Linked DNA regions of Homo sapiens: region 2 is linked to region 1. A link means that fine-mapping ties the variant in region 1 to the expression of a gene that starts in the linked region. Tissue or cell type: whole blood. Region 1 holds a variant in brackets; the other region holds the start of a gene. All regions are shown on one strand. Distances are between the middles of the regions.

What was found. PIP is the estimated chance that this variant, and not a neighbour inherited with it, causes the effect.
Region 2: it holds the start of LINC00222, and the variant in region 1 is the best candidate, but not a certain one, in a credible set for the expression of LINC00222 in whole blood (TOPMed, PIP 0.59).

What each region holds. Positions count from the first base shown.
Region 1 is chr6:108,696,683-108,701,074 of GRCh38, reverse strand. No RefSeq gene overlaps it. Among named protein-coding and RNA genes, the nearest start is that of LINC00222, 53 kb to the left of the region's middle. RefSeq lists enhancers at 1,267-2,073, 1,301-2,500. The variant A/G (reference allele first, on the strand shown) is at 2,672.
Region 2 is chr6:108,749,062-108,753,453 of GRCh38, reverse strand. LINC00222 (long intergenic non-protein coding RNA 222) reads right to left here and starts at 1,800. Exons shown (of 5, transcript NR_033376.1): 1 at 1,605-1,800.

The DNA.
Region 1 (4,392 bases):
AAAGCAAAATAAATACAGGCTATGGCTATTCCTTAACTTAATTCAGGGTTCAGGAGTATATACGAAGATCTTACATGGTTCTCACCTATTGGTTCCTACATTTGAGAGGCAGCCTCAGGAGTGTTATAGGAGGGAAAAGGAGAGATAAAAAACAGGAGAGGTTCCTTGGCTTATAGATGCATGGGTAGGCATAAGTTTAATCCAACAATAATGAGGTTCCCCTAAGGCTGGTATCTAGACCTTTCTGGAGAAATGCTGTAAATTGATAAATATGAGATGTCATTAGTCAGGTGTCCTGTTTTCACTCTTCCCTGGGAGGGAGCAGGTTCTGTTTCAGGTACATCCCAGGTCTCAACTTCCCCCACCTGCCCCCTCCAGAAACCCTGAGGCCAGATGGCCTTAGGTTGATTATGAAGTCAATGATGCCTCACCACCCTTACGGTCAGAAGGACACCTCCACGGAGCACAGGGGCCTTCTGCTCATCAAAATCTCTACTCAGTAACAGTGCTAAATATCAATTATTTAGCTCTTAGTGTGAATTGACTGTATGTCATTTTACTTACATACATCTGCATTTTATATCTTACCTTTACTCTGGAATGAAAAGTTTGTGCCCCCAAGAAAGCCAAGAGACAGCAATAAGAAGGGGAGAGAGCCAGTGCACAGCCATCGTGTCCTAGGTCAAAAGTCCCATCCCCACTTCCAGTTCTCATAAGGTATGTGGCTTTGGGTAATTTATTTTCCCTCTCTTGTCCTCAAAACCCTAATTACAGGGTCTCTGAAGTCTCTTCCAGTCCTAAAAGCTGTTCCACCGATGGTGGTTTTAGTTGGAGGATCTGAAGGGGCCCAGAAATAACACGAGGGCAGATACAGTCAGCCCATACCCTAGCTGACCCAGACAACTCTGAACACCCACCAGTGTGCCTCACCCCCAGCCCCAAGTGAGGCCCCCTTCACCCCACCTTCAGGGCAGGGCCTCACCTGAGCCAGGCTGCGAGGGTGGTGGTATCCCAGGCCCCAGTCCAGCCTCACTGTACAGCCCCCTCCTCTACCCTCCCAATCCCATTTCCTGTCTAGCAGATTTATAGTGCAGTTCAAAGAAGGAAGGACGATATAACAGCTTTCCTGCTCCCTCCCTCTCCCAACTGATTTAGTCTAACTGGCTCAGTGCCAAGCATTTTGCTCTCCACAGCCTCTCATATGTAAAAATACCCCAGGCCCCAGCCCTCCTGCCAGGAACATGGCGTCAGCTTCCAAACCCACCGGTCAGGCCTTCACTGGTGGGCGGGAAGGAGGCTGCCCTGTGAGGCGCTGGAGTCTAATTAAGTGCTGAGGAAGCAAACCATGGGCTTTAATTTTAGCTCTGAAAATAGCAAGGGCCTAGGACTCCTCTCTCTGGCCTGAGCTGTGATGAGAGTTGCCTCCCTCTGCCTGCTCGGTGGGGAGGAGAAGAAAGGATTCAGAGGGTGACGACAGCGGGAGGCCAAGGAGCCAGGAAGCAAGTGGGAGGAACGGGCTTCAGGGAGAAGGGGACGCAAGGCCAAGCCTGGGTCCATGGGACATGCCACACCCGCCACATCTGCTTTATCCCTACTTCGCATCCTAGCCCGAGTCTAGAGTGCATGGACACTCAGGAGTTCCGAGTTGCGCCAAAAATACCTCCAGAGCCCCGTGTGGCTAAGAATGCTAAGCTCTGGCCAACGTTGAGGTAATTCCCTGGGAAGATAATAGAATATGCATCACAGTTCCATACACTAACAGCCTCTGAGGCAATGAGGGTGAGGAAAAGCATTGACAAATGGACAGGTGATCATCAAAACTGCTGCGAACCCACCGAATGGCTCACTGGCCCAGCTGGATGTCACACGGGCTCCTGGCATCCTCCTGCCCACCTCCCTGTGTGGAAGGAGAGAAGTCAGCCTGCCCAAGGCAACAGGCAAGGACACAACAAATCAAGGGGCAAGATGGGAGAGGGTGCTCATGCCCAGGGGGTGGAACGTGGAGGGGGCCATTGGCTTTGCCCGTTGGGTCACTTGTCAGTCACTCACCGTGTCCTAGCTCTTCTCACACTATATTATCATTACCGTCCCCCTCCCACATTAGACCAGGGGGCATAAGCTGCATCCTTGGGACAGGGGCTTTATGTTATCCCCTCCCTTCCCCACTCCCCAGCACATTCTGGGCATTTACTTGGCTGAAATGCTTTTGTTTCTTTGCAGCCTCCCCTTTGTAACAGCCGGCACCCAATTTGCTTTATATGGTCATGAGCCCTCTTACCTGCAGCATCAAATGGGAGGCATGAAGCCACGATAAAGAACAAGCAAAGTGAGCTCCGTGAACGGGCTTTCCCAGGCTGCCTTCTGCACACATGAGCCTACCCAGAGGGGACACAGAACAGGGATGAGGCCTCTTGCATCTGTGGGGGCTATGAAGACAAATGTTATGTGTACCTAAAACTAAACCAGCACTCACTGCTTCCAGGAAGAGTTGGAATAAAAAGGAAGGAGAAACTCACCGGAAATGAAACTCAAAGGCCAGGAGTGAGGGCGGTTACCCGCCACACTCCTGTGAGAGCCTACCCATCATGGCGAAGCTGGAGAGTGGGCAGATCCTTTCCCAGAGCCCCTCCAAGTCACCTTGGAGATACCATCAGACTTCCCTCTTTTCTTC[A/G]GATTTCTTCAACCACTCCACAGACATATTTAAAGCACCTGCCACAGCTGTCTGGTAGGCACAATGTGGAAATAGCCAACCACCTGGGGTGCTGGAGGGGAGACCACCGAGGGCTGAGGGGGACAGGGCTGACCCTGGGGGTCACGGAAGCCTCTGCCTCTAGAGGGGGTGGAGGTTACTGGGGCCTGCTCCAGGTAGAGCTACCTCTCCCTCTCCCTCTTCTCAGCCTGGCATCTCTACCCCCCATGGGTGCTGTCACTCTGAGCACCTCTCACTCTCCAGAGTGCCCCTGGCACCCTGGTCTCCCTGCTTTTTGGCTCTCAGGAGTCTGCTCAGGGCCCAGCTGGCCCTAACACAGCGCGTTTCTCTCAGCAGAGTCTGAAGCCAGAATACAGGCGACATGTAAGAATAATGCCAAGGACAGGAGAGGATGGGGCGGCCGAGGAGAAGCACCACGTTACCCTCAAGCCCTACCCTGTGGGCAGCTGTCCCCACCCCGGCTGTGCTTGTGGAGATATCTCCGTGTGGCCAAACCACAAGGCCCCCATTTGGAGGATCCCATTTTCTAACCACCTTGGCCCAACATCAATAACAACATTGCCCCATAAGAAGCCGCGAGGCATTTCCTCAGGGAACCACCAGCGCCAGGGCTCAAAGACCAAGTCCAGACACTAGGAACTCCCCTCAGGAGTGTAAAACCGAGTTCAGAAATAAGAAAAACAAAGTTTCCAGCCCAAGTCTCCTCCATGGGAGACACCCTCAGCGCCCCTCCTCACAGCTGCTAGGCCTCCTCCTCGGGCCGGCCCCTCATTAGGAACTAACAGTCCCAGCCATGCCAGCCTCCAGGCCTCCTTGTTAACTCCTTGGTTTCCCTTAGTGCTGCCAGGAGAAAATTAGGCCTCAGAAATCCTGAGCAGTACTGAGAGGCAGAGAGCACCTACCACAGATGGTTAATGGTGTGTACATTCTATGGTTTCTCTTAATAAACCAAATTAATAATAATTGCTGCCATTTATAGAGTGCCTCTTATGCTTTACCCACTTGCATTATGAACTCTTCTGCAGCCTCTCATGTTTGCAACAACACTAGAAGGTAGGAATTTCTTCGCCTATCCTATAAATGAGAGCATGGAGGCTGTGTAGCTGGCAAGCAGATGTGTGGTTTAAACTCAGCTCTGTTCTGTTTTTCGCCCACCTTATTACTTACTTTGAGCAAAACTGGATTCTAAAATGTGCAGATTAAAGAGCTGACCACTACCCTTGCATCGTCCATCTGCAGAAGTTTTACATCTTTTTCTTTTCCTTTTTTTTTTTTGAGATGGAGTCTCACTCTGTCTTCCAGGCTGGAGTGCAGTGGTGTGATCTCAGCTCACTGCAACCTCCACCTCCTAGGTTCAAGTGATTCTCCTGCCTCAGCCTCCAGAGTAGCTGGGATGACAGGTGCCTGCCACCATGCCCGACTGATTTTTGTATTTTTAGTAGAGACGGGGTTTCACCATGTTGGCCAGGCTGGTCTCAAACTCCTGACCTCAGGTGATCCACCCACCTCGGCCTCCCAAAGCGCTGGGATTACAGGCATGAGCCACCGCGCCCGGCCAGAAGTTTTACATCTTTAAAACCAGAAAACACTGGGTTGAGAATGGGAAGAGTCAGGGGGTCTCCCCAGCCAAAGGGGCTTGTTGACTTTGAATAAGTACCAGCTGCCTTGAGCTTTTGAGCTTT
Region 2 (4,392 bases), 52 kb before region 1:
GAAAAAGGCTAGCAAGACAACAGCATTCTACAGAGAAGCCAAGTGGGGAGGTATAAGGGTGGCTGGTTTTTCCTTAAGTCTACACGTTTCCAACTGCTATTTCATGCTTCCAGCCGTTACCATATGTTCTCAGATTTTAAAGTCACAATAAACGTCAGGGTGAGCAGCTGTGGAATAATTCACACTTTTGTTCATTTTCCAGCACCCCCCATCAGATCCCATTGCTTAAATAATGCCCCACCCTCCCACCACCTGTACATCAAGGTCATGGTCCTCCTCTATTAACAGCAGTGAGAACAGCCAGTTTTACTCTTGCGGGAAGTTGGCAGAATTGCAAACTTGACTGCTGAGCTTCGGATGGGTCATGAAATTTTTAGTCTCTAAATCTTGCTTTTCCAGGGGTTAGATATTTAAAACATTTCTTCTTCCTAATGGTATCTTTCAATCACGCAAATTACCACAAGTACACAAGAGCAAAGACGATCGCATTCTGTGTCAGTGTTTTGTTTGCATTGTGAGAGGCTGATAATGTGGGAGGAAGTTTGTGTAGTGACTGTCTGGGTTCAGATCCTGGCTCTGTCACTTATTTGCTGTGTGAATTGACAAATGTAAACTGATTAGTATGGTGCCAGGAACAGATGCTATTATTATTCAGCAACTAGCCTGAATGTAATCATGTACTTGTTTACCTTTGTAGCTTCTTAAGGGCTAATCCTTAAGGGTTAAATGCTGCAGGGATCTGTTATGTGTTTGCCCAGTTAAGTTCTGGGCAAGGAAAAGGCCTGGGTGTTCTGCATGGCTCCCTTCCCTCTTCCACCTATACATCCCATAACCAGCATCTTCTACAGTGCAGGGGACAGGCCTACTGGCCCATGGTTAGTTGCTGGCCCACCTGTGAGAACGCAGGAAAGTCTGAAAGACGGCAGAATTGAGAGGCCTCAGTTTGGAGCTTTTCTTTTTACTTCTCTGCAGGGCTGGTAGGATTGCAACCTTACAGAACTGCAGTCTATCAGAGGCATCCAATTGTTTGTACATCTGCTCAAAAAGCAGCTTGCTCTTGGGGAAAGAGATGAACAGGCCTGGCCTGGCCCTTTGTGACACCAAAGAGGCTAGCACTGCTCTTGGGAGCCCTGCCCAGTGGTCTGGCCTTGGGAGCTGCCAGCTACACGGAGAGAGTTGGATCCTCTCCACGTAATGAAATTGACTCAAAAAGAACAAAGTTGCTCTCAACACCTGCTCACCCTCGCACAGCTCTGAAGGCCAAGAGGGGAATGGGTAATTGCAGACCACAGGCAATGACAGAAAAAGAAGGGGGAAAAATCAGCAGCCACTAGTTTAGCATATTCTCCTTCATTTCATGGGGGGAGATCAATGCAGACCTCACCATGCCTGTCTCCAGAGAGCTGGAAACAGTGGAATGGCTCAAAGGGCAGCAGGAGAGAAAGGACTGAGGGATCTGGAAAAGCAGCCCCAGAATGGTCTCCTTTTTATGTAAGCTAGCTTGGAATGGGTTTCTATGACTTGTACCCACTCTTATTTGCAATACATTTTGTGAGAAAGGCAACATGGACACCTTGGCACAAGAAGAACAGCAGTCCACTCACCATTTCAGAAGAGCTGCAAGGTGGCTTCAGGGTTCTTGGGGCACCAGAGGCAGCCTAGCCCCAGTCACCCACGGAGCCCTCCAGCCTACTTTTGCTCACTTTGTTTGGCTGCATTGCCCAGCAGTGGCCAACCTCCATGGAGTCCACATGATCAAACTCACAGAAGGCAGCAAAGATGGGGACACTAGGAAAGGAGGTCCTCAAAATTGAATCTTCCTCTTTCGCTGACTATTGTAATCACACCACTAGATGTTGCCAAATGTTTGTAGAAGGCACTTCTCCTGGTACCTGCCCAGCTCACACCCACAGGATGGACAAAGAATGGTCAAGTTTATTCTGTGTGACCCCTATCCATATTCATGACTCACTGGACAACACGTGTCCACACCCAGCCCAGTTGAACCAACTGAATTAGGACCTGGCGTAGACGTCTGGGCTCATGGCTTGAATGAAGGCTATGTAGTCACAGGAGCCATGGGGTATCCCTGCTTGGCCCTGCAAGCCAGAACAATGGAAGCCACTCTGGAGAGAGAGAGACAGAGATGAAAACAGATGGAAAAGCAGCGAGAAGCCACGGGAGTGAGCTGCCTGCATTCCCCGCTCTCCAGACCCGGGTTCTGGATCCAGCCTCACCTCCTGCCATAGTTTCCGAGAGGTATCCCAGTCTCCTTTCAACTCAGTGTCTTCCTTTTTGCTTACTTGATTGGGTTTCTATTACGTGCATCCAGAATAGTTTCCACTAAGGCAGTGATTCACAGTTTACTGAACGCTTTCACATGTTATCCTGTTTGGATTTTGCTTCGCACGCTACTCCAGGGAGAAGGCAAGGGAGGCATCATCATCATCTGCATTTTATGGTCAAAGACGTCCAGGCAATGACTGCTCAAGGTCTCCTAGGCAGGGAGGCAGGTCTTTGACCCAGACACAGCATCATCTCCACTGCACCACACCCTCTTGACATTGGAGGTGTACTTCCAGGAAAAGGGACTCTGGCGCCAAGGTATAATTGGAAGAGAGATGCTGCATTCCTAAGCACAAGCGCATATTTCAAGGGGAAAATAGGAGCTTCAGCTTGATAATTCATGCCACAGCTTTCATGAGACTGACTCTGTAAACAAAGTGTATTGAGAACGGGAAACCAGGCGTGGAATTTGTGGTGGAGAATACTCCCCCTTATAAAAATATGTGAAGCTTATAATATCATATTATTTTAGCATTTGTCATACTTCTTTCTCTCTTTCTCGAGGGCACCAGTGAACAATGGACAGGTAGGTTACATTTCTCTTCTCCACCTTTGCCTAGTCATCACTGACAGTTTCCACCCAAAGTAGATTAGCTAGGAAACTGACACTCTTGCCACACACACATGTGCATGTGAATGTACTCCAACACACGTGCACACACACATGCTTGCTTGTGGATACCACCTTCTAAAAACAGCTCTATTGAGATATAAATTCAGATACCATATAATTCCTTCATTTAAAATGCACACTGTGATTTTTGGCATATTACATCATTTAAAATGGTTACATAACATACAACTTGCCATTTTAACTATTTTTAGTGGTATTAATTACATTCACAATGTCGTGCATGACATTGCAATACAATCATTAAAACCATCTATTTCAAATGGATGCTATTTTTTTTGGTCCCTCTCTTTTTCCCTTTCTCTCTTCCTCCTTCCTTTCTCTTATGTTTATTTTTCAGTTTTTTAGGAGACAGGGAAAGTCCATCTCGCCTCCAGCCCTGGCCTTCCCCATGCATGCAAATCCCCACTGCTCTTCTTGACACTCCTCTACTTATCCAACCTAGGCTCAAACTGGAAGGCAAGACCTGATCATATGACCTGATCATATGTGAGTTTCTGTCTGCACCCAAGTCTCTAGGACACAGAGGGAACATCTTGCTTCTGGGACATTCCTCAGGTGCTGAGCTCCCCTGCCTGAAGGGAGCTGCTTGAGGACTGAGCTGTGCATCTTCATTCTGGACCCTGGTCTTTGCTACAGGGGCTCAGTGATGTCTGCAGAGTGGCCTTGGGGGCCCCTACATTGTCTGGCCCAGATGCAAGCGCCTGCTGATGTTCCACAAGGAATCTCTCCCCAGACCAATGTTAGGTTTGGATGTTTTCTTCTTTCTCGTCATCTCCTTTGCTTCCTGTTACTTTTTACCCTCCTAAAAAGTGTGAAGAAAGAACCTGCTGAAAATTCCATCTGATTGGGTCTAATAAGAGCTCAGCATTTGATGCTTTCCCCCATGGCTGGTGGGGGAAAGTTTGCTCCTGAACAGTGTTAAGTTCTGGACCCTTACTTCTGTGTTCTAGGAGGGCAACCCCCTTCCCCACCCACCCAGTAATCCACTCAGAGGGAAGAGAAGGAAGGATGAATGGCTTTTCAGAAGAGAAAGCACAGTTCTCAAGTGGAGCCTTGGGTCTCTCTGCATAGGACTGACTGACGAGCCTATCTGGAGAGCTCCTACTAAGCCCAGTCTCCTGTCTCCTCCACCACCAAAAGGCATCCTTTGGTGATGTCATTACTGTCATTCACCGTGAATATGGACAATCAACAGCCAAGGATCTTTTGTGTAATTAAATGTACTAGCTTGACAGCTCCCAAATGAGGGGGTAATAGTTACTGGATGTAAAGTGGCTTTTCTCTAATCCTGAGTGACGGCATGCTGTTGCTAGGTGCCTGTTTTTCTGCCTTTCAAATACAAAGTGACTAATGGGGTATATTTCATAACACATCTGCAAGTATGTAGTTCTTCTTATACTTCGATGCCCTTT